2 separate regions of the Homo sapiens genome follow, and region 2 is linked to region 1. Evidence: fine-mapped expression QTL. A gene starts in region 1. The other region holds a variant in brackets. All regions are shown on one strand. Distances are between the middles of the regions. Region 1 holds the start of ZNF12 (zinc finger protein 12). Region 2 has its middle 6.3 kb from the start of ZNF316.

Region 1 (2,904 bases):
ACCAGGGATTTATTCATTTTCTGCTGCTCTTGGAAAAATCTGGAGGACTGTGAAAGCGGAGGCAGATCTGGGGAAGGAAAACCCAAGCCATGGCGTTATGAGCGGTCTGGCCTGCCAAGGCGGTCATCTCCCGCCCAAAACCTACACAGAAAGTTCCAAGAAGTACATCTTGTGGGAGACTGTCCCTTTAAGCCTTCAGAAGGGATTGGAAAATGATCAGGAGGGGGACCGATCTGCACATTTGAAACTCACACATGGCTACCTTGTGACTGAGTGGATGAGATTCTCATGGTGAATGAATACTGGATCCTACTGAAATAATCTGCCATCATTAAATGCAAGATTTAAAAAGGAATTCTGGTGACCAGCCTGGCCAACATGGTGAAACCCCATGTCTAGTAAAAATACAAAAATTAGCTGGGCGTGGTGGCGGGCGCCTGTAACCCCAGCTACTCGGGAGGCTGAGGCAGGAGAATCGCTTGAACCCGGGAGGCGGAGGTTGCAGTGAGCTGGGATGGCACCATTGCACTCCAGCCTGGGCAACAAAGCGAAACTTGTCTCAAAAACAAACAAACAAACAAACAAAAAACAAACAACAAAAAATGAATTCTGTAATACTCATCTATTTTCTTACTCTTTTAAATAAAGATCAGAAAATCCACAGGATGCCCTAAATAAAGGAATACAGTCGGCATAATTGAGTCTTTATTTGCAGAAACTTCAGTGTGCTACTCAAAAGGATCTTTTATTGAAGAACTTACGCTCACTTAACTAGGATACGGGGGACAGAACACTGGCCTGGGAGATAAAACTCCAGAGTTCTACTATGAGCAACTCCACCCACAAAACCTCGGACAAGTCACCCACCTGCTAAGGCCCTTCCCCTAGCAAATGAGGCAGCAAGAGATAGTTCCTGCAGGCTGTTCCTGCACTACAACGTATGATTCCACAAGAGCAGACCTAAGGGGGAATCAGCACTTAAATGAGAGAACAGAGGTGCTGACGGACGTTTAGATACGGTAGCAATCTGGAGCAGAGAGAGGAGGAAGGGCTGCTGGGGTGAGGGGGGAGTGGAGACAACGTCCGCAGCTGAGGCTGGTGACACCCCCCACGCCCCCGTAAGCCTCGTCCTCGCCGGACCCTGCCTTCAAACCCAAACACACGTCACTCCTGCAAGCGATCGAGACCTTCCACTGTCCCTCACTCTAAGGTGCCCTACACGCGGTGACTTCACCCAGGCCCTTCTCGCCCCGGGCCCGCAAACCCACGACTTACCCTCCTGGGGCTCCGCAGCCTCTGCCCCACCGCTCCCGACAGGCCGGGGCGGGATTGCTGTCGCGGGCGCGCGTCTGCTCGCGAGGTCCCTTCCTGTCCACCTCACCAAGGCCGTTCTGCTCCAGAGGGGCCCGGGCCGGGCCTACGGGACAAATCCAGGCGGGGCGTCCCTCCCGGAGCCCAGATCCGTCTCCCTGGGGCTCACCGTCCTGCGGAGCCGGGGCCGGGCCGTCGAGGACGCACACGGGCCGGGCCCGGGTCCCGCCGCCCCTTCGCCTCCGCCGTCGTCACCGCCCGGCCGGCCCCTTGGGCCCCAGCGCCGTCGGCTCCGGGGGTCGTGCTCGGGGATCCCCGCTTGAGCCTCCGCCTGGCCCGCACAGCCCCGCGCCCGCTTGGGTGCCGGCCCGGCTCTTCGGCGCCCAGCCCCGCAGGCTCCGCGATTCTCGCCCACCGGAGGCCAAAGCCTGGGAACTAGGGCGAGCGGTGACCTGGGGACGCACAGGAAGCGAGGGCACTGCGGCCGCGGCGCGCATGCGCGAACACGCACACAGAGAGGGGTGCACATGCGCAGGAATGCACCGGAAGTCCGCCTCCCGGGACCCGCCGCCGGTCCCAGGACAAATACCGTGACTCTATTTCCCATGAGCCTACGCGCTCCCCAAATTTAGGAGCCATTTGAAATGTCTCTATCTGGTCTAGCGGTTAAGAGGCTCTATGCTAAGAGAATTGGCAACGCCGAACCCCAGACTCAAATTTCTCCTTAGTTTAAGGGAACGTCTTCATGGGGATGTCTTGACTATCTTTAAGGGAACGTCTAGAAAGTCTCTGCTTCCTGTAGCATCTCGTAGACCATGCCTGGGCCAGTCCTGCCTTACCGGAGAGCTCAAGGCTTAAAATCAATGTCCATGTGCAACCGTGACAAATGGAACAAGAGGGTGCATCATGCTAGCTTATGATCACAATGACACATTTAACGAAAACTTCAGTAAATAGAGCCCATGGATGAAATAATAGAGGATTAGCCTGGGACAGGATACCATCCTCGCCCCAACAAGGAGAAAAAGAATTCCAGCTTTTCCAAATCACTTTGAATTAGTGATAGCTAGAAAACTCAGAGAATATGTACAGAATTGAAAGAAGAAAAAAATTAGCCAGAACTCTACTTCCTGAAGAGGATGAGGCAAGCAGAAGAAGAAATTTGCGTCTTAATGGAAAACGAAGCACATTTAGAAAGCCATGTTACTTGATTCCAACCCTGTTCCTTATCTTTGAGGTATTTTACACCTCTTTGAAAACTGTAGGTAATCGATGCAAGTTATGTTCTGTCTGGTGGAAGTTGGTTGACTTCCCACAATCCCCACTAGAGAAAATGCAGTTTTGACTGCATTTCTCCATTTACATAATCATTTCAATATTCCTGATCTGAAAATATGTCTGTTTCTCAGATTCTCTCTCTCTCTCTCTTTTTTTTTTTAATTTTGAGACAGGGTCTCACTCTGCTGTGCATGCTGGAGTTCAGTGGCGAGATCTTGGCTCACTGGTTCAAGGAATTCTCCTGCCTCAGCCTCCCAAGTAACTGGGATTACAGGTGCACACCACCAAGCCCGACTAATTTTTGAATTTTTAGTA
Region 2 (2,904 bases), 76 kb before region 1:
TTTTTTTGAGACGGAGTCTCACTCTGTCACCCAGGCTGGAGTACAGTGGCGCAATCTCGGCTCACTGCAAGCTCCGCCTCCCAGGTTCACGCCATTCTCCTGCCTCAGCCTCCCGAGTAGCTGGGACTACAGGCGCCCGCCACCATGCCCAGCTAATTTTTTGTATTTTTAGTAGAGACGGGGTTTCACCGTGTTAGCCAGGATGGTCTCGATCTCCTGACCTCGTGATCTGCCCACCTTGGCCTCCCAAAGTGCTGGGATTACAGGCGTGAGCCACCACGCCCGGCCCCGACCTCTAATTTTTAAATTTTTTGTAGAGGCGAGGTCTTGCTATGTTGCCCAGACTGGTCTCAAACTCCTGGGCTCAATCAATCCTCTCGCCTCAGCCCCCCACAAAGTGCTGGGATTACAGGCATGAGGCACTGCCCAATAATTCCCAGTAAATGGGAATGATTGTTCAGCAGAAAACTGATCCCTTTGGGAAAGTTAACGTGGGGAGAATGTGGCCTGGCTCTATGGTCCTTGACACCACCGTGAAAGACCAGGTCACCCTCTGCCCATTGCCCTTCCAGAAGAAGCTTGTCCTCCCTGCCCCAGCTCCGAGTCCACCACAGTCTCCCACTCAGGCAGCTGCAAGGCATGCTGGGAGTGAGTGGCCACTGGGGCTGGGGGCTGTCGGGGGCAGAAAGGAGGAGCAGATTCCTCCCTCCTGGCACCTACAAAAGTGTGTCCACCAGACAGGGCTAGATCAAGTCCAGGTCCCCGCAATGGAATGGGAAGGAGCAGGCAGCAGTGGGGTCTCAACTGCCGATGAGGAGGCATGCAGGGCTGGAAACACAGTCTTTCTATTTCCTTGAGCGGCCTTCAGCCTCCCCGGAGCCTCTTCTCCACTCAGCCTTGACCTTTGAGTGTCTGTGCCCGTCTCTGCATTGCCCAGCTGTAGCAAAAATCCTGTCAAGTCAGTTTAGCCAGAATCTCCACCCTTGGTATCTGATCAAATCCCTCCTCTCCCACCACCTGCCAGGTGCCCTCTGATCACTCTTGCCTGCCTTCAGCCAGGATCCTGGGAGTCAGTTCAACCACAACCTCCCACTCCTTCGTATTTTTCCACCCACCCACTCCCCTCCAACCTGCTCCTAGGCTGGAAGTCTCCACTTGTCCCTGCTGTATTCAGAATT[G/A]AGCCCAGTTCTATACTGAGGTCTCTTTTCCCTATTGCAATAGTTCCTGAATAAAATCTGTTTTTTACCGTTTTAACTACTGTCCAGCTTTGTTTTCTTTTTCTTTTTTTTCTTGAGACAGGGTCTCAGTCTGTCGCTCAGGCTAGAGTGCAGTGGCACCATCATAGCTCACTGCAGGCTCACCCTCCCGAGTAGCTGGAACTACAGGCTCGCACCACCATACCTGGCTAATTTTTTCTACTTTTTGTAGAGACGAAGTCTCACTATGTTGCTCAGGCTGTTCTCGAACTCCTGGGCTCAAGTGATCGATCCTCCCACCTTGGCTTCCCAAAGTGCTGGGATTACAGGAATAATATGGTTTGGATCTGTGTCCCCACCCAAATCTCATGTTCAATTGTTATTTATTTATTTTTGGAGACTGAGTCTCCCTCTGTCACCCAGGCTGGAGTGCAATGGTGTGATCTCAGCTCACTGCAACCTCCACCTCCTGGGTTCAAGAGATTCTCCTGCCTCAGCCTCCTGAGTAGCGGGGATTATAGGCACTCGCCACCACTCCTAGCTAATTTTTGTATTTTTAGTAGAGACGGGGTTTCACCAGGTTCGCCAGGCTGGACTCAAACTCCTGACCTCAGGTGATCCACCCACTTTGGCCTCCCAAAGTACCGAGATTACAGGCCTGAGCCACCATTCCTGGCCTCTCAAGTTCAACTGTAATCCCCAGTGTTAGAGGTGGGGCCTGGTGGGAGATGATTGGATTATGGGGGCAATTTCTCATGGTTTGATACCATTCCCCCTGGAGCTGTCACCACGACAGTGAGTTCTTGTGAGATCTAGTTGTTTACAAGTGTGTGGCACCCCTCCCTTCTCTCTCATTCCTCCTGCTGCCACCATTTGAAGTGCTGGCTCCCCCTTCACCTTTTGCCATGACTGTACGTTTCCTGAGGCCTCCCCAGCCATGCTTTCTGTATAGGCTGCAGAGACATGAGCCAGTGAAACCTCTTTTCTTAAATTACCTAGTCTCTGGCAGTTCTTTATAGCAATAGGAGAACCGACTAACACGAAACATGAGTCACCGCTCCCAGCCTCACCTATGGTTTTAATAGCAGCACTACTGCCTTCAGCCCACTCCAGGCACACAGAGGCTCCGTGGGGGCATCCATCAGCATCCTTCTGTGCCAGGCTCCCTGCCAGCCCCTGGTGTGAGAGCTCAGGAGGAGCCCAGGAGGGCTTCCTGCAGGAAGAGACAGCTGAGGAAGTCCCGAGAGCCGAGTGAAGGGGAGCTCTGCCCAGTCAATGTTCAGTCCCTGCAGGTGGGTCTGTGCAGATACGGGGCAGGCCCATGTACTTGAACGGAGATGCTCTCGGCCTCACAGAATTCCAAATGCCCCAGATGCCTGTTAACTTTTCACATACCCTGTGTCCCTGCCAGTGAGACACACGAAGGCTGAAGCATAGAACAAGCTTCATGCCAATCACTGGGTGGGCTGGCACCCTCCTCACTGCCAGCACCCACCGTGGAGGATGGGCAGGAGCCAGGCAGATGACACCCCAGGAACTGTTTCATGAGTATGCTTGGATATTCCCCCAGCCCCAACCCCACCAACTGCTCATAGATAGATGACTGACATGGAATTGTACTAGTGCAAAAAGGGTATGATTTACTTTTTTTTTTTTTTGAGACGGAGTCTCACTCTGTCGCCCATACTGGAGTGCAGGGGCGCGATCT

What was found. PIP is the estimated chance that this variant, and not a neighbour inherited with it, causes the effect. A credible set is the group of variants that fine-mapping cannot tell apart.
Region 2: its variant is the best candidate, but not a certain one, in a credible set for the expression of ZNF12 in whole blood (INTERVAL, PIP 0.64).

What each region holds. Positions count from the first base shown.
Region 1 is chr7:6,705,157-6,708,060 of GRCh38, forward strand. ZNF12 (zinc finger protein 12) reads right to left here and starts at 1,791. Exons shown (of 5, transcript NM_016265.4): 1 at 1,276-1,791; 2 at 3-67. The coding sequence starts at 17. RefSeq lists a silencer at 1,407-1,766 and an enhancer at 1,460-1,959.
Region 2 is chr7:6,629,551-6,632,454 of GRCh38, forward strand. No RefSeq gene overlaps it. Among named protein-coding and RNA genes, the nearest start is that of ZNF316, 6.3 kb to the right of the region's middle. The variant G/A (reference allele first, on the strand shown) is at 1,179.